Linked DNA regions of Homo sapiens. The protein of the gene in region 2 purifies or fractionates together with the protein of the main gene of each other region. This does not show direct contact. Each region holds a gene or a part of one and is shown on either strand. Other genes may lie near its edges. The genes, in order: ELMO2, DOCK5, KIAA0232, C5orf34, MADD, DDX11 and RAB3GAP1.

Evidence for each region.
Region 1: the proteins of DOCK5 (region 2) and ELMO2 purify together in Homo sapiens (affinity purification with mass spectrometry; 3 studies listed by BioGRID and IntAct, with this or other methods). This does not show direct contact.
Region 3: the proteins of DOCK5 (region 2) and KIAA0232 purify together in Homo sapiens (affinity purification with mass spectrometry; 2 studies listed by BioGRID and IntAct, with this or other methods). This does not show direct contact.
Region 4: the proteins of DOCK5 (region 2) and C5orf34 purify together in Homo sapiens (affinity purification with mass spectrometry; 2 studies listed by BioGRID and IntAct, with this or other methods). This does not show direct contact.
Region 5: the proteins of DOCK5 (region 2) and MADD purify together in Homo sapiens (affinity purification with mass spectrometry; 2 studies listed by BioGRID and IntAct, with this or other methods). This does not show direct contact.
Region 6: the proteins of DOCK5 (region 2) and DDX11 purify together in Homo sapiens (affinity purification with mass spectrometry; 2 studies listed by BioGRID and IntAct, with this or other methods). This does not show direct contact.
Region 7: the proteins of DOCK5 (region 2) and RAB3GAP1 purify together in Homo sapiens (affinity purification with mass spectrometry; 2 studies listed by BioGRID and IntAct, with this or other methods). This does not show direct contact.

The regions. Positions count from the first base shown.
Region 1 is NC_000020.11:46,396,616-46,400,115, forward strand, and holds part of ELMO2 (engulfment and cell motility protein 2), read right to left. Parts: intron 2,157-3,500; 5' UTR 2,082-2,156; intron 1,405-2,081; exon of another isoform or gene 1-1,404. UniProt on the Homo sapiens protein: Involved in cytoskeletal rearrangements required for phagocytosis of apoptotic cells and cell motility. Acts in association with DOCK1 and CRK. Was initially proposed to be required in complex with DOCK1 to activate Rac Rho small GTPases.
Region 2 is NC_000008.11:25,187,689-25,191,188, reverse strand, and holds part of DOCK5 (dedicator of cytokinesis protein 5), read right to left. Parts: intron 1-3,500. UniProt on the Homo sapiens protein: Guanine nucleotide exchange factor (GEF) for Rho and Rac. GEF proteins activate small GTPases by exchanging bound GDP for free GTP. Along with DOCK1, mediates CRK/CRKL regulation of epithelial and endothelial cell spreading and migration on type IV collagen.
Region 3 is NC_000004.12:6,876,727-6,880,226, reverse strand, and holds part of KIAA0232 (uncharacterized protein KIAA0232), read right to left. Parts: coding exon 3,470-3,500; intron 1-3,469.
Region 4 is NC_000005.10:43,505,149-43,508,648, forward strand, and holds part of C5orf34 (uncharacterized protein C5orf34), read right to left. Parts: coding exon 3,429-3,500; intron 2,050-3,428; exon of another isoform or gene 1,247-2,049; coding exon 600-1,246; intron 1-599.
Region 5 is NC_000011.10:47,276,633-47,280,132, reverse strand, and holds part of MADD (MAP kinase-activating death domain protein), read right to left. Parts: intron 3,402-3,500; coding exon 3,270-3,401; intron 1,969-3,269; coding exon 1,855-1,968; intron 1,135-1,854; coding exon 1,054-1,134; intron 1-1,053. UniProt on the Homo sapiens protein: Guanyl-nucleotide exchange factor that regulates small GTPases of the Rab family. Converts GDP-bound inactive form of RAB27A and RAB27B to the GTP-bound active forms.
Region 6 is NC_000012.12:31,080,360-31,083,859, reverse strand, and holds part of DDX11 (ATP-dependent DNA helicase DDX11), read right to left. Parts: intron 48-3,500; coding exon 1-47. UniProt on the Homo sapiens protein: DNA-dependent ATPase and ATP-dependent DNA helicase that participates in various functions in genomic stability, including DNA replication, DNA repair and heterochromatin organization as well as in ribosomal RNA synthesis.
Region 7 is NC_000002.12:135,160,292-135,163,791, reverse strand, and holds part of RAB3GAP1 (rab3 GTPase-activating protein catalytic subunit), read right to left. Parts: intron 1,238-3,500; coding exon 1,141-1,237; intron 1,045-1,140; coding exon 941-1,044; intron 807-940; coding exon 691-806; intron 1-690. UniProt on the Homo sapiens protein: Catalytic subunit of the Rab3 GTPase-activating (Rab3GAP) complex composed of RAB3GAP1 and RAB3GAP2, which has GTPase-activating protein (GAP) activity towards various Rab3 subfamily members (RAB3A, RAB3B, RAB3C and RAB3D), RAB5A and RAB43, and guanine nucleotide exchange factor (GEF) activity towards RAB18.

The DNA.
Region 1 (3,500 bases), on a different chromosome or scaffold from region 2:
AACTATACGATATGACTTTTTAGATCATTTGTTTAGTTTGGCTTCTTCTTATTTTTAAAATAAGCAGGCACAGAAGGTACAACAGAAAGAACACTGGGCTGGGATAATTGTCCCTGCTGAAACAAGTGACTGGATTTAGAACCAAAGGCCTCAGGACCCAATCCTAGGTCTTTCACAATGTATACATGGCCCTTTAACCAAATCTCAGTTTTCTTCTATTGAAAGATGTGAGTGTAGAACTAAAGCATGTCTCAGGTGCCTTCTAAGTCTAAAAGTCCATGATTCTTAAGTGGAATTTAAAAAATCCAAGTGAGGATGCCCATTTTAAAGTCCTTACCAAATGAAGTTACACCCTTCCTTAATTTCGATGGTGCTGCTAAGAAACAAACCCCATGATTTTTAACTCCTTTCTGAACGCCGTCTTTGGAGATTAAGCTAAAGCTCATTAGGTTATAGCTATTATTTTCTCTTGACCCCATATGACATATCCTAGATTGACTCTCTCTTTATTAAAGTTAGCCCTGAATGATTCTCGGCTGTTCAAAAATTCGTATACATTTTAAAGCATGGAGATTTGCAACCACCAAACTATTTGAAAGATATTAATAAGCCCCCATTCTCAGTGACTCTGTCCTTCCCACAAAGCCCAGGCAGCCTCTCTGAACTGAATGACACTCTCCACAACCCTGCCATAGCTGATGGGACTAAAGTGAATACCCAACTTTAGCTGAACTATTCCAGTTCTTTCTCTTGAATTTAAAAGACAGAGACTGGCTGGGCGTGGTGGCTCATGTCTATAATCGCAGCACTTTGGGAGGCCAAGGTGGGTGGATCGCCTGAGGTCAGGAGTTTGAGACCACCCTGGCCAACATGGCAAAACCCCGTCTCTAGTAAAAATACAAAAAGTAGCCAGGCATGATGGTGGGCGCCTGTAATCCCAACTACTCGGGAGACTGAGGCAGGGAGGACAGCTTGAACCCAGGAGGCGGAGGTTTCAGTGAGCACAGATTGCACCATTACGCTCCAGCCTGGGCGACGGAATGAGACTCCATCATAAATAAATACACACATACATACATACAAACAAATAAAAGACACAGACTAAGGGAACTGGGTGATAATGACCCTGGAGAAGTAAGATCATAGTAAGCTTCAGAGCGAATACCATGGCAAGCCAAAGATCCGTACGAGCCAAAGATATGGAGAATAAAAAACCAAGAGCCTTTCAGAGGAAGTGATTCTGCAGGAGGAATCCATAAATATCTAAATGAACTGAGGCCAGAAATCAGAAAGAGATGGAAAAGCCATTACCTGCTAACTTTCCAGATTATGTGGCTATTACTTCCTATGCTCGGGGTACCTGAAAGTCCACTGTATCCTGCCAATAAAACTCCTATAAATTAAGCTAGTCTATGTTTCTACTCATTGCAACTAATACGCCTAAGACCACAGCTGCCCCCAAGCTCTGCAGGAACTCTAAAACGGAGGTCTGAGCAGACAGCAGCATCACTAGCATATGATGATGGTACTGGGTAAGCACTTAATTAACAATGGCTGAATTAATGAGAGCAAAACCCATGGGTTTGCTCTTACCCACTAGATAAGTCTGATTTGTTTGAAACAGATCGGTTATATGGTAACTTCATAGTAATCATATATCTAGTAGTAACGTACAGGTAGCCTCTTTATTTTTATTTTTTTAAATTTTTTTTAAAAGATGGAGTCTTGCTCTTGTCGCCTAGGCTGAAGTGCAATGGCATGATTTCAGCTCACTTCAACCTCTGTCTCCTGGGTTCAAGCGATTCTCCTGCCTCAGCTTCCTGAGTAGCTGGAATTACAGATACTCACCACCACGCCCAGCTAATTTTTGTATTTTTAGTAGAGACGGGGTTTCACCATGTTGGCCAGGCTGGTCTTGAACTCCTGACCTCAGGTGATCCATCTGCCTCGGCCTCTCAAAGTGCTGGGATTACAGGCGTGAGCCACTGTGCCCAGCCCAGGTAGCCTCTTTATAGTTGATTGCTCACTTCTATATCATTATTATAGTTGATGCTCATAAGAACTCTGAAAAACATTCCTACCTTACAGGTAAGGCAACTGAAGTTCAGACGGATTGACAAACTTGTTCTCCATGTACCTCTTTCTACACCTCCCTCCTAAAAGAAGGAAGGAAAGAAAAAAAATGAAGGGAGGGAAAAGAAATAAAACTAAATCAACCCAACACATCAGAACTGGGTCTCAAGCCTAGGTCTTAGGACTCCAAAGCGAGTTCTCATCGCTCTATATAATACTTCCTTAGATGATGACATTAGCTAGCAATTACATAATGCTAAGGCACTATTTTAAGGGCTTTACATATATTAATTCATTTAATCCACACAGCAATGCTGTGTGGTATGTTATTATCCCCACCTTAGAGATAAGAAAATGGAGGCACAGAGGAGTTAAGTAGAAGGCTCAGTGTCACATAGCTAGCAAGTGGCACAGCCAGAATTTGATACCAGGTTGTCTGGTGTTGCTGGAAAGCCATGAGAAAGCAGGTGGCTCTGCACCTGACCCGCAGCAGGTGCTTTGTGGAGATTTCTGGTTTGTGTATCTGAAACCAAAGCACACTGAGGCTAAGAAACCTTCACAGCAAGAACTCACCATTGTAACAGAAGACAGCTCTCCACTGTCTACAGGTGGGCCACACTCCCTCGTGTGCTATTTGGTCCTTTACAATCTAGCCATCCTGGACTACGGGCTATTTCTATAAGGCAGGCCATGTTCTTTCAATTCTTCTGTACCTTTGCACATTCTCTTCCTCCTACTGACTGTCAGAAGAGCTCCTATTCAAGCATCAGAGCCTAGTTCGGATGTTACCTCCTCCTTGTACTAGTCTTAGCTTTCTCTACTTTCCCTGGCAAAAGTAAATAGGACAGGGGCCTCTGTGTTCTCACAGCATCCTGTTCATACTTCCGTTAATGAGTACGATTTTGTCATACTCTATTACAGTTACATATTTACACATCTCCACTAGCTCCTCCTCCAGAACAGGTATAACTCTGCAGTCTCATAACCTAGCACAGCACTTGGTGTCCAGTGAAGGCTCAGTAAGCACCTGTGTCTGCTTAAACCCAATGGCTCTGATTTCTTCCACTCCTGTGAACCAGGCTGGCTCCAAACAGACAGGGACAGGCATGAACTGTGCAGGCTGTCTGGTGTTCCCTCTGCGTCCCAATACCCTCTAACTACACAGTATTTCCATTGTTTAACAGTTTGTTTTGGCTGGGCGCAGTGGCTCACACCTGTAATCCCAATGCTTTGGGAGGTCAAGGCAGGAGGATCACTTCAGGCCAGGAGTTCGAGACATTTCTCTACAAAAAATAAAAATTAGCTGGGCATGGTGGCGTGTGCCTGTAGTCCCTAGCTACTCAGGAGGCTGAGGCAGGAGAGTTGCTTGAGCCCAGGAGTTCGAGGCTGCAGTGAACTATGATCATGTCACTGAACTCTAGCCTGGG
Region 2 (3,500 bases):
TTTTAATTTCATGGACCCCCCCCATTCTGAACGTGTCTCCAAGACCCCACATGTCCCTGGAACATACTAAAATAAAGGGTTCAGAATGGTACCTCACAAGAGAAGTTCTCAATGAATACTAATTCTCTCTTCCTTTTGTTCTTAGCCTCAATGCTGTTAAAACATGACCAAGTTCAGGAGATCAAGACCATCCTGGCTAACACGGTGAAACCCTGTCTCTACTAAAAAATACAAAAAATTAGCCTGGCGCAGTGGCGGGCGCCTGTAGTCACAGCTATGCGGGAGGCTGAGGCAGGAGAATGGCGTGAACCCGGGAGGCGGAGCTTGCAGTGAGCCGAGATCGCGCCACTGCACTCCACCCTGGGCGACAGAGCAAGACTCCGTCTCAAAAAAAAAAAAAAAAAAAAAAAAACCCATGACCAAGTTAAGGCCAGGCCTTCTTCGGGTCATTATAATTATATAATATCCGGTACAGTGTTATGTGCAAAGAGGTGGTCAACAAGTATCACTGTCTTGCTCAGATGGCACTGTAACTAATTAGCTATGTGATCCTCAGCCAAGGATACTTAATCTGTTAAATCCAGAGGATCCACGAACTTGAACAAGAAAAAAGTTACATCTCTATTTTCTGACATTCAGCACTCACTTTAATTACGACTGTAGCCAATAAACCGCAATTGCACTACTAGCGCCTGTGATACTGTCACCAATAAAACAGGGATTTTTATATCATAGTATGGTTACTGCAGATATCTTGAAAAATCATATATGCTCGTGACTAATTCAAAATTATGCTAGTTATTAGACCTGTCACTAGATCTTGGTACTTTATGCATTAATAAAGAAGTACATATACTGCAGTATCACGAACTTTGAAAAACACCTTCACGGCCTATTTCAATACGGCTGTTTTCATTTTCTATCCTTTGTAATTTACTTAATTTTTATTTCTACAGTGACTTGGAACTTTGTATCGTACTTTATGCATTTAAAAACATTCTGGGCCAGGAGCGGTGGCTCACGCCTGTAATCCCAGCACTTTGGGAGGCCAAGGCGGGCACATCACATGAAGTCAGGAGTTCCAGACCAGCCTGACCAACATGGTGAAACCCCGTCTCTACTAAAAATACAAAAACTGGCCGGGCGTGGTGGCGTGCGCCTGTAATCTCAGCTACTCAGGAGGCTGAGGCAGGAGAATCGCTTGAACCCAGGAGGCAGAGGTTGCAGTGAGCCAAGATTGCACCACTGCACTCCAGCCTGGGCGACAGAGCAAGACTCCATCTCAAAATACAAACAAATAAGCAAACAAAAACACAACAAAAGCCCAAGTCTGAAGTCAGTCTTAAATCAGCATTCAAAGCTCTACTCCGTTAAGTCAGATGCTTCTAAACAACTAAAGAGCTTTAAACAAGTAAACACCTGAAGAGCTAACTAGTAATATTTCCCAAAACTGCCTTTTGTTACATCATAAAAATATATGTGATCACAAATCCCAACATGCAACAATGAGCTACTTTTCAAAGAATAAGGCTGGGTGTGGTGGCTCATGCCTGTAATCCCAGCACTTTGGGAGGCTGAGGCAGAAGGACTGCTTGAGCCTAGGAGTTCCAGACCAGCCTGGGCAACATGGTGAAACTCCATCCCTACAAAAAATACAAAAATCAACTGGTTGTGGTGGCACGCACCTGTAGCTCTCAGCTCTCAGCGGGCTGAGGCTGGAGGGTCACTTGAGCCCAGGAAGTTGAGGCAGCAGTGAGCCATGATTTTGCCACTGCACTCTATCCTGGGTTACAGAACGAGACCCTGTCTCAGAAGAAAAGAAAAAAAAATCAGCCAGGCTCATGGCTCACCCCTGTAATCCTAGCAACATGGGAGGCTTAAGGCTGAAGGAGCACACGAGGCCAAGAGTTCCAGATCAGCCTGGACAATATAGAAAGACTCCATCTTTAAAATGATTATTTTAAAAGTTTAATATTTTAAAACTTAAAAAATCAAAAAACTTAAGCCAGGCATGGTGGTGCACACCTGCAGTTCCAGCAACTTGGAAGGCTGAGATGGCAGGTTGCAGTGAGCTATGATCATACTGTACTCTAGTCTGGGCTGTGGAGTGAGGCCCTGTCTCAAAAAAAAAAAAAAAAAAAAGAAAGAAAGAAAGAAAAGAAAAGAAAAAAAAGCTTTGCAAAGAATCCATAGTCAACCTAATCTGGGGCTATTCTTTACATAATGGCTTGTGTGGAAGCAAACTTAAAAATAAATGTTTTTATAATCAGACTATTCTGGATATTTATCACTAATGTTTGCTTAAAAGTGTTTTATATCTTCATATGCTCAAACAGAAAAAAGAGAGAGAAAAGAGAAACAAAGAAAGAAAAAAGATGAGAAAAAAGCACATTTTCCACGTCTCCAGGGAAGAACACTTAGCCACTGAGCACTTAACACTGGGGTACTAGAGCACCATAAGTTTAAAGAATCAAATAGATCAGTCACTTCACTTGATAACACACAGAAACCATTGAGATCCACTTAATGCTAGAGCCTGAGCCAACACTGCTGTTTAAGAACTAAGAAAGCCCAGACAGGCTGCATTTCAGTCCCTGTAGAAACATCTAGGATATGTCAGGAACAGCCAAGAGTGGCACCAAGATAAAATATGACAGTAGCGACTGCCAGCTTCAGCAGGCACAATTCATACTGAGTCCAAAGCTCTATCCTCACACAGACTAGCTCTGCAGAGGCACACTCCTCTTAGAGCACAACAGGCAAAGTCATAGCTAGCTCTGAGTCATCCAAATGCTTCAACATGACTATCCTACGGTTCCTTCATCCAGAAACCAAATCTGACCAGTACACACTTAGAGAAGTCCAGAAAGCCAATTTTCCCAACTATATTTAAGAAAGTCTGTCTGCTCCATGCTTCCTTGTTTTCTCAGCAGAATATCTCATTCTCTTACTTGCAGAGATAAAGACAGAGTGGAGGCTCTCCCTTCCTCCATCTAACCAAACAAAATTCAACTCATATTGGGGTGAATGAGATGTTATGCCTAATGGGAAGAAAAAGAAGAGGAAAAAACTGCATTCAATTACCAGACAAGCTAGGTTAGTGTACTTTAGAACGGCACCCCAACATCAAGGACAAGCAAACTGAATGCACTAATACCTGGTACACCTGTTGAGTGCTAGGAATACAAAACCACAATGGTCTGATTCACTGAACCCAAGGATGGCACAGTCCAGGAACTGCGAGGAAGAAGCAAGGAGGTTTGGGACAGTCTGACAAATAGCAAATTTGAAGAAGGGAGTAGGAATGGATTTGAGCCCTCAAGGAAAGGTGAGCTGTCTGAGGCAGAGTTGGGAGGGCACTCCTGGCAGGGACAGGCACAATGGGAGCAAAGTCCCAAAGGAGGGACTCTGCAGGGTATGTTGCACAACAGTGGGAAGGGCAGTTGGTCTGCATTGGAGAGCTAGTGAAAGAAGCCTCGAGAGATAATGCTGAAGATAGG
Region 3 (3,500 bases), on a different chromosome or scaffold from region 2:
AGTTTGCAGTGACACAGTACAGATGGTGAGGGGACACTGCAGACCTCTGTGTTGGGAAGGGAGTTTGCAGTGACACAGTACAGATGGTGAGGCGACACTACAGACCTGTGTGTTGGGAAGGGAGTTTGCAGTGACACAGTACAGATGGTGAGGGGACACTGCAGACCTCTGTGTTGGGAAGGGAGTTTGCAGTGACACAGTACAGATGGTGAGGCGACACTACAGACCTGTGTGTTGGGAAGGGAGTTTGCAGTGACACAGTACAGATGGTGAGGGGGCACTGCAGACGGGTGTGTTGGGAAGGGAGTTTGCAGTGACACAGTACAGATGGTGAGGGGACACTGCAGACCTGTGTGTTGGGAAGGGAGTTTGCAGTGACACAGTACAGATGGTGAGGGGGGGCACTGCAGATGGGTGTGTTGGGAAGGGAGTTCTTTGGAGAAGAGGCCCGCTCAGCTGAGAAGCCAGCCATGCAGAGGTGCCAACACTCTGTGGTGTCGGACTGTCTCCCCTACACCAGATGGTCAGCATCTCTGGACCCCAGGACATGAGATGCAGTGGTGGCCCCTCCTCAGTCACAGTCATTACAAAGCTCCCCTCACCCTGCCATAGTAACTAGCAGCACTCCCACCTCATTTCCAAATGGCAGCATTGCCCCTGGTTGAGAACCCCTGAGGCAGAAGCACAGAAAAGCCACACAGAGTAAGGGGAGAGCAGAGACAGATGAGGTCAAAGGCAGACGGGGGCAAAACATACAGGGCTGTAGAGGCGTGGCGGGGAGTTTGGATCTGTCTCAAATGCAACAGCAAAGTGACATCATGGTTAGCAGTATGGGTCCTAGAGGCAGACTGCTGAGGTTCAGAGTTCAGGTCCACACTGAAGCTGTGGCTCTCTGGCCTCGGATACACGGCGCCTGATGTTTTTGTGCTTCACTTTCCTATTTTGCAGAACAGGCATGACAACAGTACCTACCTCACAGGGTCGTTGTGAGGACTGAACAAGATACTGCTCGTGAGGTCATTCTGTCTGCTGTGTGGAGAGAAGGCTGGAAAGGATGACGAAAGCAGGAAGGACAATGAAAAGACCATGGCAGCTGTTCAGGAGCAGGGACAGTGGCTTGAACAAAGTGGTAATGATGGAGAGGAGGAGAAGTGGGAGATGCGAAGTGGCTGACAGCGGGGAACGGTCAGGACTGGCAGGCAGACTGTGTGTGGAAGATGAGAGAGAGGACTGGGGAATATGTCTCAGTTTGGGGTTTGAGGCTGGAGGGATGATGTGAACTAGTCACTGAGGAGAGAGCTGGTGGGGGCCTCAAACATCTGCCTTCATGTGTGGAGCCGGACAGGTCAGTGGGCAGCAGGACGTGGACGATGATGCTACAGGTGCTTGGGCAGACAGTTCTCACAGGACTTGAATGGACACTGACAGATGGTTAATACTGAGTGTCAACTTGATCACATGCCGTGTGATTCAAGTTAACGGGAAACTACAACAGCCCAGTCCAGACAGGATACAAATGGCTCAGACTCTTTAGGAATGAAGGTTTAGGTCACTCCACCGGGAAAAAACCACAACCTGCTGAGGTGCTTGCTGAAGGCAAAGGGAATACAGAATGGGTAGTAGAAGAAGGTAGTCATCAATACCAGCTACGACCATGTGACCAGGTGCAGAAACCAGGACTGTAATTGTCTTGAGGAGTATTTCCTCCTTCGTTAAAAACACGTTTGTGCATGTATACACTTGTACTAAGAAAATCTCATTTTATTTTTTGTCCTTTATCATGTGACACAAGATTTATGTATGTATATATTTATGTATGTATGTATGTATGTATGTATGTATGTATGAATGAATGATGGAGTTTTGCTCTGTCACCCAGGCTGGAGTGCAGTGGTGCGATCTCAGCTCACTGCAATCTCTACCTCCTGGGTTCAAGCAATTCTCCAGCTTCAGCCTCCCAAGTAGCTGGGATTACAGGGGTGCACCATCACGCCCGGCTAATTTTTGTATTTTTAGTAGAGATGGGGTTTCGCCATGTTGGCCAGGCTGGTCTTGAACTCCTGACCTCAGGTGATCTGCCCACCTTGGCCTTCCAAAATGATGGGATTACAAGCGTGAGCCACAGCGCCCGGCTGACATAAGATTTATTGACTTCATATCAGCATTTAAGTATTGTTAACTCTATGTAATAGTACTTGGGTTTGGGATTGGTGCTTTTCCGGTTGTATGAAGCATAGCTGTATTATGTTAGGTATAATTATGACCTTATTGTCTTTATTTGAAGATTACATATAATTTCAGGAGATGTGTATGGGTTCAAATTGACAAGGGGTGGACTTGTTATGGTTAATACTGAGTGTCAACTTGATTGGATTAAAGGATGCAAAGTACTGATCCTGGGTGTGTCTGTGGGGGTGTTGCCAAAGGAGATTAACATTTGATCCAGTGGGCTGGGAAAGGCAGACCCACCCTTCATCTGGGTGGGCACCATCTAGTCAGCTGCCAGCGTGGCTAGAATATAAAGCAGGCAGAAAAATGTGAAAAGACTAGACTGGCCTAGCCTCCCAGCCTACATCTTCTCCCATGCTGGATGCTTCCTGCCCTCGAACATCGGACTCCAAGTTCTTCAGTTTTGGGACTGGGACTGGGACTGGCTCTCCTTCCTCCTCAGCTTGCAGATGGCCTATTGTGGGACCTTGTGATCGTGTGAGTTAATACTTAATAAACTCCCCTTTGTGTATATATATACCTATTCCATTAGTTCTGTCCCTCTGGAGAACCCTAATACACTGACAATTCACACCAAATAAAAAGAATTTTCCTTAGGTTCATTTGCCTGCCTGCCTCTTAACCGGGGAAGGTCTAAGACGAGACTAAACCAGGCGGAGGCCCCGCTCCCGCCTTCGTGGTGCCCACAGGCTTGTGGAAGAGGCAGACATGCAGAAACGGAACGCAAGTACATGCTCTGGCTACAGCAAGAAGAGTCGTGCACAGAGTGCAGGAGGACACGGAAAGGGCGGGATCGTTCTGCAGAAGCCGGGACAGCGGCAACAAGCACACTGGCAAGGCTGCCTCAGGGTGCACTTTCAAAGAGGACAAGGCTAGGTCTCCCACTTATTAGGTAAACAAAAAAAAAAAAGATGAAAAGTGTGCCCACCCAAGGAGCAACAGGGTCAGCTCTGCATTTGTAATGCAATGCCCTCGGGCAGTAGTGTAGAGCCAAGACTGGGGAGAGAGCTGGGGATTCTTCAGGAAGCACTGGCAGTCAACAGTCAAGGGGGTTTGGAAGCGGGGGAGAATGCAGACTCAGAACAAAGGCCAGAGAACAGGAAGTCTGCACCCACAGGCCTGGCTGGTTCCTGGGAGAGGTGGGGTCCACTCACATGACTCCCAGGTTTTTGACTACAGTGACAACTGGAGGTGGTGGCTGTTTGTAAGTTAATGACGAGGAGGAGGACAGTCCACTTACCCTATTAAAATCTAACAGGCGCTCTTCATTA
Region 4 (3,500 bases), on a different chromosome or scaffold from region 2:
TATGCAAAGTTGATGTTACAAATCTACAATCCTTAGTGGAGTTAAAAGTTTTATACTTAGCCTTACAGAAGCCACTCCGTGTGTACCCCTTTTGAAAACAGACGTATTTATAGTCAGTGAACCAAAGACACGGGTAGCCTCTGAAGCTAGGTATGGACAAAAGAACTGTGTCAGATCCACACTCCAGCAAGCAAGGTCACGGGCTCCAGTGAGCGGCAGCAGGTGCTCCCCTGGGCCCACAGAGCCCTGTGCAGACTCCTGTCCCATCATTTAGCATACTTTAATAATCTTTTTAGGTACAGTGACCTTCACTAGATTCTAAGTTGCTATAAAGCAGGGACTGTGTCTTAGTCATCTCTGCAGTTACTGGACTTAGCACAGTATCTAGTGTAGAGTCAGCCTTCTACATTCAATGCATGGACACAGAGTAAAAAACATAAGCAACACATTTGCTAGGGAAATTATTTACTATCAGTTAAAAGCAAAATTTTGGATGAGATAAACTTTCCTTGTGAATGGTATCAGATAAAAAGAAAATTATCCAGGTTAAGACTGGTTCTGATAAAAAGCTTCATGACCAATAGCCATTACTGCATTACCTGTGTAGGTGTGGGACTGGACAGCTGAGTGACAGGGCCCTGGGAAGAACAGAAACCACTTTTCCTCTTTCCTCTGAAATATCAGAAGTTAAAAATCTACTCTGAGTTATATGTGCATCAATTTTAGACATATTGCTGATTTTATTATGAAAATGAAGTGCTAAAGACAAAGGATATTTCCATTCCTCTGGACAGGCAGCCACAGACCAGCACTGCTTGACCCATGTGTATACACATGTGTGCTTTGTACCAGGCGAAGGCAGCTCTTCCCTCCCTTCAGTTCCATTTACACAACTCATCTTCTTTAAAGTTTCTTTGGATTTCATGATCTGGCAATGAAACTCATTTTCTTTATTCTTCAGTCTCTGTCCTGGTAAATTTCCACGTATACAGATTTTGCCAGTTTTTTCAACTAGTTTATCTTTTGGGGCTTTATTATTTGTTTCTGACAACACTGCAGATGAGTCTGACTTCTGGCTAACTTTACACAAAAAATGTACTGTAAATTCATGCTGAGATCTGGGCAGGCAGAGGTATGCATGACCATCTAAAGATGTTATCTTCACAATGCCACTCTCCATATATATCATGGTACCATCTGTATCAAGACTGGGCCATCTCACTTCTGTTATGTCAATGAAGATATGCTGCAAGGAGAGGGGAAAAGAGACGGTGAGTATTTTCTGTTAACAGTCCAATTTTTCCATATATTTGATATTTAAGTATTGTGTAAGAAAGCTCTTAAATATTTGTGTTTTACTATCTACAGAGAATGAAAAAATGGAGGGCCAGATCTCAGCCTATATATGATTTTCCAGAGAATGTTTGATATTGTTAAGATTATCACCCTTAAAAAAAAGAGATGTAAAACAGACACAAAATGAGAGAAATGGTCATATTTAGTGTTAAATGTATTTTGGTTTTAAATGTACAATGAATTAAACAGATTTGTATCCCTCCCCTCACCCTGCAAAAGTTTACTCTGAAAAAAAACTAGAAATAAGGGAAGACCAACACTATGATACATTATATTAAAAGCAATCATAGCTAAAAATTTTTCTTTAAGTTTTAAATAAAAAAAAAAGCAACCATAGCTTAAATGGTACAGGACTACCATAAAAATTATTGACAGAACAACTCAGAAAATTCAAAAACAAACTCAATCATATCTTAAAATTTACATGAGATAACATAAGTTTTTCAGAGCAAGAGGGAAAAGAGAAAATTATTTAAACTAGTACTAGAATTACTGAACAGCATTTGGGAAATTCTGTCTTGCAGGGTTATCACATGAACCAAATAAGGTAACATGTAAAAAGTACCCATCCTAGGTAGTACCTGGCACACCATACACTAAAATAAATTTCAGGAGGCTTAGAGGAAACTTTAAAAAAGTTTAATTACTCAAAGAAAAATTGATTCTGACTAATAAAAGACTCATAACAAGTAACAGTGTTGATTGTGACTTTTCATATAAGATATAAACAGTAGATATTGCGTGAGAGGTTTTTACTGAATTAATTTTGCCAAGCATTTAGCATTTCAATTCCATTTATGTAAAATCTTACGTTTACACAAACTATTGTCAAGAAAGCTTCCTAAATTTACCATGCTATCTATATGTACGATGTTAGGACACTAAAATTGAGGGCTGTATTTACTGACAGCAAAGCTGGTTTGTAAGGATGGTCATCAAACTCCTCTTTTAGAATTAGACTATCTAATAATCCTGCTGCAGCATCAGCAACAAGCTAGGCAGTTTCAGTGAATAAAGTGACTCAAAAGACACAATGGAAAATTACCATTCTAGGCTAAGTTACAACTTATAATTTTTTATGGCTCCTTTGCCACGAGACAATATAAAATTACTCAGCCGGCAGGCAAGCATCTTGACAGCATAGAAAGGTAGCAGAAAGTAGTTGAGAAACAGAGTTTACAGAGTCAGATAGACTAGGTTCAAATCCTGACTTTGCCACTGAGAAAACTGCCATAGACAAATTAGGTAAACTCTCTAAGACATAATTTCCTTGCCTATAAAAAGAGGCTGCCGGCCGGGCGCGGTGGCTCACGCCTGTAATCCCAGCACTTTGGGAGGCTGAGGCGGGCGGATCACGAGGTCAGGAGATCGAGACCATGCTGGCTAACATGATGAAACCCCGTCTCTACTAAAAATGCAAGAAATTAGCCGGGTGTGGTGGCGGGTGCCTGTAGCCCCAGCTACTCGGGAGGCTGAGGCAGGAGAATGGCGTCAACCTGGGAGGTGGAGGTTGCAGTGAGCCGAGATCGTGCCACTGCACTCCAGCCCTGGCGACAGTGTGAGACTCCGTCTCAGAAAAAAAAAAAAAAAAAAGAGGCTGCCATCTAGCCAATATACCTGTTTTGATTGGATGGACATCCATTTTGATCAGTATGGTGTTATTAAATATTTCTAATATTGTTCATAGTTGTTGGACATAGTAAACCCTCAGTAAATGACAGTTATTATTCCTAAAAGTCCAAACACAATACTATATAAGCAAAATAATAAAGGTCATACCCATAGTTACATATTTCTACTATACATTAACAAATACGCTGTTACTGAAAATGGTCACATAATTACTTAATTTTGAGACCTCTGAGAATGAAAAAGTCACCAATCTAAAAATTCTGATTATAATGCTTGGATACAAAGAAAATGGCAAGGGGGATACACTATGTAACTTTGATGTTTTATAGCAATGTATCCCCAGGTGTCCTGAAAAGGAAAAAAAGGCTAAATATTAAATTACCTGTTTCTAGTTACTTGTCCTCAAATAATACTAACAAAAATGAAGTTAAAAAAATCACCTTTTTTCTTTCAGAAGGTATGATGGTTTCAGATAAAAAAGGGCAAGTAGCTGAAGAGTTTCGAAAATCTAG
Region 5 (3,500 bases), on a different chromosome or scaffold from region 2:
AAATCAATCAATAAAAAATGGATGTGAGGAATTACTCAAAGAAAGGAATTTTTTTGTTTGTTTGAGACTGAGTCTCACTCTGTGGCCCAGGCAGGAGTGCAATGGCGCAATCTTGGCTCACTGCAACCTCTGCCTCCTGGGTTCAAGTGATTCTTCTACCTCAGCCTCCTGAGTAGCTGGACTACGGGCGTCCACCACCATGCCCGGCTAATTTTTGTATTTTTAGTAGAGACAGGGTTTCAACATAATGGCCAGGCTGGTCTTCAACTCCTGACCTCGTGATTCACCTGCCTCGGCCTCCCAAAGTGCTGGGATTACAGGCATGAGGCACCGTGCCCAGCCAAATAAAGGAATTTTTGAAGAAAGGAACCCTCAGGATCAACTCTAGAAGATAATATAAAAGCAGCCAGACGGTCCACACTACTAACTTCCACCTAACAAGACTGAGAAAATCGGCCGGGCGCAGTGGCTCACGCCTGTAATCCCAGCACTTCGGGAGGCTGAGGCAGGCGGATCATGAGGTCAGGAGATAGAGGCCATCCTGGCTAACATGGCAAAACCCCGTCTCTACCAAAAATACAAAAAAATTAGCCGGGTGTGGCGGCGTGCGCCTATAGTCCCAGCTCCTGGAGAGGCAGAAGAATGGCGTGAACTCAGAAGGCAGAGCTTGCAGTGAGCCGAGATCGCGCCACTGCACTCCAGCCTAGGGGACAGAGCAAGACTCCACATCTCAAAAAAAAAAAAAAAAAAAGACTGAGAAAATGTTCTGAAGCCATAGAGAGTGGCACACATACAAGAAACAGAGAGTGAAGGGCTATTTTATACAGCATCATAAGCATTAGAAGATGGTAAAGCATACAATGAATTGGAATCAAAAACAGAAATTCACTCTGCCACCCAGAAATGGGATACGCGTTTTCTTAAGCCCATCCAGGGTGAAGAAAACTACTCCACTTGAAGTTTGATAGGAAATTGGCTCTGAGAATAGCTGTCTTCTTATAGGAATCCCACAGCATCTAATACTCCCCTTTCTTTCCTTCGTTCTTCACCTACCTGCTTTAAATGCTTTTTCAGCTCTAGTGATTCTGGTTCTGGCAGGATAGGCAGCACTTCTGCATTGGTGGGGGCAATCACCTGCACCAGAGAAATGATAAAAGACGTGACCTTAGAGTTTATTGCTCAGGAATTTCACTTACATAAATAAAAATAAGAGGACGTATATACATTATTATTATATAAACGAATATACATTATATAACTGCACAGTAAGATATATGTACACACATATATGACATACATATGCATCTGAAATGAAATATAACTTAATGTTATTGGTTATTATCTCTAGATAAAAGGATTATGGTTTTTCTTTTCACTTATTTTATTTACGCTTATTTTTATTTTTTTTAAGTTTTACAATGAGCACACATAAGGGCTTCCCACCAAAGTCTGAATGTATTCACATTGCAGAATGGTCATATAATTAATTAAGCCTGCACTGAAAGACAGTTTCTTACTGGAAACTATACCCCAGGGAAACCATTAAGAGATGATCTATACCACATGTAATGGCCCTCAGATCACAACTGTCTGACTGCTCTTGGAGGATATGGTGGGGGGTCACTTAATTCTGGCAAAAATAAATCCTGTAATTCTCTGAGACCTAACCAAGGGTTTATTTGGCTAATAAGGTAAAAGGAGCATTTAAAAAAACTTGTTTCAGTAAGTCTCGCAATAGAAATTATCCAACAACTTAGGACGTTCCTGAAAGGAATCTAGAAACAGATATCTCAGGACTGGGTCTAGAATGCAATCCTCCTCTAGACTCTACAATGCCTCAGCCAAGAACCTCACCCTATTGCTGTCCAGATCCACTAGCCATACATCATCAGGCATTTTGAAGTCCAGTTTGTAGAGGAAGAAGCTGGCAGGAACCCCAATGATGTACGGGGTTGGAGCCAACAGCAGCTGTGGAAATGATAAAGAAGGTGAGAAACAAAGACAAAACCTATCATGAGCACTTATCAAGTCTGGATTCTTCTAGATAAGGAAATGCAGATACAATCCCTCTTCCAAAACTCTTGAGGCCAGATGTATTTGAAAATTCAGAATTTTTCAGATTTTTTGAAAGGTAACATGGTACATTTTTTTGTATACAGTAGTCTTTCTTATCCACAGTTTCACTTTCTGTGATTCCAGTTAACTGAGGCAAACTGTAGTCTGAAAATATTAAAAGGAAAATTCCAGAAATAAACAATTCATAAATTTTAAACTGCAGCTTGATCATATCTGAAGTGCAGGACAATAGTTCTGAGAAGCATGATGAAATCTCATGCTGTCCCGCTCTGTCCCACCCAGACATGAATCACCCCTGTGTCCAGCCTGTAGCCATCTCGGTTATCAGATCAACTGTCACACAATCTCAGCGTTTGTGTTCAAGTAACCCTTATTTTACTTAATAATGGCCCCAAAGCACAAGGGTACTGATGCTGGCAATTGGGATATGCCAAAGAGAAGCCAAATATATGTAGAAAGAGGCTGGGCACGGTGGCTCATGCCTGTAATCCCAGCACTTTGGGAGGCTGAGGCAGGCGGATCACCTAAGGTCAAGAGTTCAAGACCAGCCCAGCCAACATGGTGAAACCCCGCCTCTACTAAAAATACAAAAAATTATTTGGTGTGTGGTGGTGGCAGTGCCTGTAATCCCAGCTACTAGGGAGGCTGAAGCAGGAGAATCACTTGAACCTGGAAGGCAGAGGCTCCAGTGGGCCGAGATTGTGCCACTGTACTCCAGCCTGGGGGATAGAGGGAGACTCTGTCTCCAAAAAACACCAAATATATGCCCAAAGAGAAAACTGTTACTCTCTTACTGTGTCTAATTCATAAATTAAACGGTATCACCGGTATATATGTATAGAAAAAAACAAAGTATCTATAGAGTTTGGAACTATCTGTGGTTTGAGGCATCCACTGGTGGGTCTTGGAATGTGTCCTCCACAGATAAGGAGGAACTACTGTATTACGTAACACACGTAACACCTGCTGCAGTGTAGCCAGTGGCCTACAGTCATTAACATTTGTTGTGATAAATGAAAACTAAAATAGCATAAGCCTTGCCACCAGATCAGTTCAAATCAGTCAGATTTTGTAGACAAATAAGTTATGACAAAGGATTGAGGACCAGCACTCACTTACAACTTCTTTGAGCATTAAGCCTCCTCCCTCAGGAAGACAGAGGTGAGAAAGCCGGAAGTCGCCTTGAGACTCACCTGCTCTGCTGATGCCATGCAGGTGGGTAGCAGCGGGATGACAGGAAACATATACTCCAGTGGGTAGATCATTGCCACGAATGCCATCACAGACATGGAGAGTGCATTGTAGTCTCGGGACTGTAGCACCACCTGTCATGAGCCATCCAGTAAGAATCACTCCAAAACATAAAATATGGTTTACAAGAAAACAGCTTCCAACATTACAACTTGGTTTCCACTTCATCGAGC
Region 6 (3,500 bases), on a different chromosome or scaffold from region 2:
TCACGGAGCCAAGAGAGGGCCCCACAAATAAGACTTAAGGACTTCCCCTGCAGGAAGAAAAATGATCTTTAGAAACAGGAAAACAACAAAGCCTCCCAAATGACCTTTCCCCATTTTAATAAAAGCTTGAAAGAAGGTCTGGCTGTACATAGGAGAGGATGCTCTAAGACCAGCCTAGGAAAGGAAAGGAAGGAAATTAGCACTAGAATAGCCAGGAAAAACAGAAAAAAGAAAGAAATGGAAACTGGGCCCAAGAAGCAGGAAAAAGCTTCTTTAATTATCCAGCTCACTGTTCTGAAAACAAATTTGAAGCAGTTTATCAGATTCTATGTAAATATCGCACATAATTAGAAGAAGGGGAGACATTAGACAAAAAGTCCCCTAAAAGAATTAAGGCCCCAAAATGCTGAGCAAGAAATCCCAGGTACTCGCCAACAGGGAGCCAGAGTGACCGCGCGGCCTTCGTGCAGCTCGTGCGTGGATACAGGATGATCAGTCATGAGCGCCAGTGCTTACGGTTTGTGTTTTGTTTTGTTTTTTTTTTTTTAAGCAAACTAATCACTCTGGAAGACACCACTCTGTCTGTTTTTGAGAGGAGGTCTTGCTATGTTGCCCAGGCTGGTATGGAACTCCTGGGCTCACACAGTTCTCTGGCCTCAGCCTCCCAAGTGGCTGGGACCATAGGTGTGCGCCTCCATATACAGACTGGAGAACACTACCCTTGACTTAAGACCAGAATTTTCCATAAGCCTGATTGAGTTGTATTCCTCCAAATTCCTGTGTTGAAATCCTAACCCCCAGCATCTCAGAATGTGGCCTGATCTGGAAATAGGACTGTCGCAAATGTAATTAGTTAAGATGAGACTACTAGGACGGGACCCAGCCTAAAGGGCTAATATCCTTATTGGAAAGGGGACACGTGGATGCAGACATGCACAGAAGGCAGGCGATGTGATGATACCCAAGGAGAACACGCCACCTATAAGCCAAGGAAAGGGGCCTGAAGAGATCTTTCCCTCACGACCCTCAGAAGGGACCAAGCATGCTGACACCTTGATCTCGGACTCCAGCCTCCAGCGCTGTGGGATGTCAGTTTCTGTTGTTTAAGCCCCAGTTTGTGAAGCTTTCCTCTAGCAGCCCCAGGGAACCAATACAGTTCTTCCAGAGAGGACCCTTCAGGGAGCGCCACAAGGAGGCGGCCCTGGTGTCCACAGGGGAACTCAGCTCAGGGGAGTCTCTGGAGGACCCCATGCCTTCTGCTCCAGGCAGTCAGCTCTCTGAGCCTGCTGAACCCAGAGGGGATCTCAGAGTATCCAGGGCGGGGTGAAACACCTCGTATGACTACGGTTGGGGCAGCAGCGCGGCGCAGGAGTCAGAGTCTCAAACTCCACAGCCAGGTGCCAGGGTTCCAGCTGTCTCCCCCACCTGCAGCTCTGTGGCTCAGGCTGGCCTCACTACGCTTGTTTCCACGAGTGCAGAAATGGAAATGACAACAGCGGCACCTTCCTCATAGAGCTGGTGCAAGCAGGACATTAACACACACAAAAGGCCAAATCCTCTGGATTAGAGGATTACCTGGCAAATAACAAGTGAGCGGTTGGAGTTAGCTAACTTTTTGCTATCATTAAGTAATAATAATAAAATTATTAATAGCATTATTCTGGAATATGGGATCTATTAGTTTTCATCAAAATCTTGAAAGGCCCTGGGATAGGATAGAATGACATTGTTGACAAATGGATGGATCCCATATTTTTAGGAAAGCCCCATATGTACCATTTCCCTCAGCTTTTGATAGAAAGTAAATGGCAAAGAGTTCCAGGCAGCATTTCCCAGCAGCACCTGGAGGGCGGCTCTTCTGTGCTGTCTGTGATATCGGAAGCAGTCAGCTTCAGCTGTCACTGGGCTGGGAGACACAATGGTTAGAAAGCCAGTGCCCTCCATTTGAAAGTGAGCTGAGGAAGTTCCTAAGGGTATGGTCAAAGTTATCTTTCAAAAACAACCGTGGTATACTCCGGCACAACAGCAAAAGAATAACTGAGGCCCACTGTTTTCTACATCGTGTAATAAGACCACAAAACTTTTAGACTGGAAAATGTTAAAAGGATTTATAACCAAAGGCTCACCTTCCTGGGGTATCATCAACAGTTACATGATTTATGCCAAGATAAGCAAATTCATTCACTCTGAACACCTGCTGGTTGCAGCAAGCATGGGGCTCAGAGCTGAGGACACAAAGGTGCAGAGCCCCTAGAAAATGCTCACAGGTTCACATGTAACATACAATTCGAGGGCATCATAGATCCCCGCAAAGCATGCATTCCAGGTTGGATGACTCCCGGAACTGCAGTATTACACAAGGCACAGCACACACCAAGTGGTAATGGTGACTCAACTTGATAGACCTGTATAAGGCTTAAAAGGTGACTATCAAGGATAAACAGCATCTGGGGCAGCTAAGGTGGGGCACCTGTGCATCCACGGCGGGGAAGGGCATGGTAGGCACAACAGGTAACACAAACCCCACTCAGGGTGTCCCACAGCATGGCTGCTTCTATGGGCTGCGGGACACCCAGGACAGGAGAAAACACTCTATTCAGGAGATGATTTAGAAGACAGAAGAATGTCAAAGGTAATAAAGCCACAGGGTACATTCACAGAGACTGCACACAAGAAGATGAAGCTATAGAACCAGAAACATCGACAATTAAAGGCTGAGCAGAGGAAGAAGACGCAGAAGCCTGGAGTGCAGAAGACTGAGATGGAAAGACCTGAGAGGGAGAAGATGGGTTGTCAGGCTAAACAAGGTGAAAGGGGTCAGGTACAGTGGCTCATGCCTGTAATCTCAGCACTATGGGAGGCCAAGGAGGGAGGATTGCTTGAGCCTAGGGGTTTAAGACCACCGGCCTGAGCAGCATAGTGAGATCTCATTTCTACAAATTAAAAAATTAGCTAGGTGTGATGGTGCACACCTGTAGTCCCAGCTGCTCAGGAGGCTGACGTGGGAAGATCACTTGTTGCCAGAAGGTTGAGGCTGCAGTAAACCATGATCTTAACACTGCACTCGGCCCTGGGCAACAGAGCAACACCCTGTCTCTAAAATTAAACAAGGCAGAATGAACATGCACTCATCTGTGTTCCAAAGCACACTAAAATTAACCAAAGTAATATGGAGGCTTACACCCACAAAAAGAAAGTGGAAGGAGTAATATGTTTTAGGAGAGAGGGAAAGAAGGCAGAGACATGGAAGTGATTTCGGCAGAGACACTCAAGCCCAAGTGTCCCCAGAGATCTCCCCCACTCATTCTCAGAAAGACTCAGGAAGTGGTAGGAACACAGCAGGCCACTGAAAACAAAGGGACGGGTTGAAATTCTTTTTAAGAACAATTAGATTCTCAGGTTGCAATCCCTGCTCCTGCTCCTTGCAGAAGACAGGAAGTGGGCTCTAAGTGGAAGCTGAGCTAGGAGAGCCCTGGAGGCAACCGGCAGATTGAGGAGGC
Region 7 (3,500 bases), on a different chromosome or scaffold from region 2:
TAATGAAAATTTTTAAATGATGACAAATTTAAGCCACTGAACAAGCTAATTTGTGAACACTTTATCACACATTAAAACAATATTGTCCTTCCAAATAACATGGGCAAAAAATGAACAGGGCCTCACACTGATCTAAGCTCCATTGGTAATGGTGCCGAGTCTCATAAAGAGAATGCCCCAATCATTTGCTTCATCTGAGAAAAGCCATCTGGTCAATCTTTCAAAACATAATCGCAAGGCACATAGGATGTGCACCTTTGCTATCACAAATCTTGTTTAAAATAAACAACTAGGAACAGTAAGCAGAAATGGTTTCAGCACCTGCACCCTGTGGTCAAGGAATAGTAACAGCTGAAAACAAAGTTTTGGGGCAGGGTGAGCAACACAGTTAACAGCTCCTCCACAAGAAATTCCAGACACCACATCTCCAAGAGCAAACCAAGGAATCCCTAGAAAAGGAGGCTCTGGGAGACTGTTTCTAAAAGTGGGAAGAATGGAAACACCTGGTAGAGACTCAGAAATACGGGAGAGGTCAAATGCTATGATAATTATTTCTGTCTCTAGACAATGCTTGTTTCAAATAATATATGATTACCACAAAAGAGTCTTAATATCCTATTACAATTTTTCTTAAGAGAGTGGTGGCTTTTCCTACTGCAGACAAAACTGAATTAGCCAAATAGCAATTACCTTTCAAGATCTTCCTTTTCCTCCTCCTGTTCACATTTCTCAGTTCCAAACTTGGCTTTTAGTGACCGAGCTCTGGCAATGAGAGCTTCCACATTAGTAATCTGGTGAATGATTTCCTGGCGGTAGAAAAGGAAGAGGCATACATTGCGAGATGGCAAAAAAGCAAAGCCCTTTGAAAACGCATCTTAAAAATTATTTTTGCCAACTGAGGAGAACACTTGGCAAGATTCTGACACTACATCAAACTTACTTCCAATTTCTTGTCTTCTGGATTGGGGAAGTGCAAAACTTTACTGGAATGGGATATTATCTGCTTTATGATCTTCTTAACTGAAGAAATGTTTTCGAGACTTTCTATTTTAGAAAAGATTGAAGCCAGCATTAAATAAATTAAGCAAAATATACTTTCACTTTGGAAATGACTAATGACTAGTTAAATATGACATTTACCTTCTTCCTTTACCTTGAGTACAGCTGCATGAATCACACAAGGTAACAGGTGCCGAGCAAGGTCTGCAGGTTTCTGGATTGCCAGATAGTGCAGCACCTGAAGGAGGTGCAGCGCACACAAATGATCAGCGCAGGTGTCAAAGGATGAAGCAGCCACTTACAGAAGTGCAAATCCTCAGCCACTCATCTTAATCCTTAACAAGACAGCACTCCAGATAGGCAGCCACGACCCCAAAGGTGAGGATAATGTTACTGAAAGCACCTAAGAACTTCAATCTTTAATAATTATAAATATTCTATTTTTTTCTGCTTTCTTATGTAATACACACAAATAAGGAAAATACAAAGAAAATAAAAACTACCGACTGATTACAATACCAAGAGAAAACAACCATTGACAGTGGAGCATTTTCATTTTAAGACGCAGAATACACGTACTAAGGGCACTAATATTAAATATGTAAAATACTGCCTTTTAACCTGCTTTTCTCACTTAATATTTCTAAACATTGTTAGTGACTTCCCACACATTTTTTGGTTTTAGTTGTTTTGGTTTATTTTTTTTCCAATTCTTATTATAAGAATACAGAGAAGTATGTACAAAACATGGACCCTACCTTTAGGCTCCTTATTCAACAGTAAAGATAAAAGAAGTATAACCCTATAAATATGTACAATTCTTTTACATCAATAAAAATTTTAAGAAGTATAATCTCATAATGTGAGTCTGACTGATAAATGCTCATGGATTTCAAAATTTTAAAAAAAATACAGGTGATGCAGAAATTTTCCTGAAATCCTACTTCCCCAAAACCACATTTTCGTGTTTATCCTCTCAAACTACTTGTATGTCCATTTAAACACAAAAATGTAGATGCATATGTAATTTCTTAACAAAAATTAATAACTTACATACTGTTTTATTATTTGCTTTATTTAATGACTTGTGGTGGACTTTTTTTTGGCTTAGAGAGTTTTGTCTGATTTGAAACTTTTTTTAAATTAAGAAATATACATACTAGAGTATTAGAAATAGTTTAAAGAAAACACCAGCTTAGGAAACAGAATGTTACCAGGCTTTTCCAAGTCCTCCTGTGTACCCTCCATCCCCAGAATTAACTACAAATCATTCTTTTGCTTTTCTTTATGGTTTTTTTCACATATGTAGCCTTAAATAATATATTGTTTACTTTTGTCTAGTTTTAACCTTTATATTAATGGAGTGTTTCTGTTTATAGCCCTCAGTGACTTGCTTTTTTTCATTCAGTATTTTGATATTCGTATACCATTCCAATATGCTATAGTTTACTCATTTTCACTGCTGTATTAAAATGTTCCTACACTAATAGTAGTGGATAGCTCCTCAGTTTTTGGCTATTACAAATGATGCTCCTATTACATTATTGCACATATTTCCTGGTGCAAATGGGACATGTACAGCAATTACTTTAGGATATATACCTAACAATTGAACTAGGAAATGTACAACATAATTATCCTACAAAGTGTTTCAACAGATTTACATTCTTATCTAGAGTAATGAGTTCCCTCTGTTGTACATCCTTGCTAATACCCACCTTTCTGAATTTTGTTTTCCCCTGATTCACAGAAAAACAAATTTGCAGGAATAACGTGAAATATGTGATTCCCCTTTACCTGGATTCACGTATGACCTGTCTCCCTCCTCTGTTCTGGATCCCTTGCATCTTTCTCTGCTTTCATGTGTGTACATACTATAGACATAAACTTGTTTCGAATAATTTCAGAATAAGTCGCACACTCATGTCCCTTATCCCAAAATATCTGTATTTCCTAAAATTAAAAATATTTTATTATATAATCAAAATGCAAATGATTCTGATTATATACAATAAATTTAACACTGATAAAAATAATTGTAATCTAACCTACTATCTTTATTGCAGTTTTGTCAACTGATCCCATATGTGTCTTTTTTTTTTTTTTTTTTTTTTTTTTGAGACAGGGTCTTTCTCTGTTGGCCCAGACTGGAGTGCAGTGGTGCGATCTTGGCTCCCCACAACCTCCGCCTCCCAGGCTCAAGCGATTCTCCTGCCTCAGCCTCCTGAGTAGCTAAGACTACAGGCACATGGCCACTACTGCCCGGCCAATTTTTGTATTTTTAGTAAAGACGGAGTTTCACTATGTTGGCCAGGCTGGTCTCGAACTCCTGACCTCAAATTATCCACCTACCTCAACCTCCCAAAGTGCTGAGATTACAGGCATGAGCCACCGCGCCCGGCCGCAAAATGTGTCTTTTATGACCCTTTCCCTCAACCACTACAAGTCTTGGTAAGGATCATCCATTGCCTTTAGTTATCATAGCTCTTTAATCTCAACTA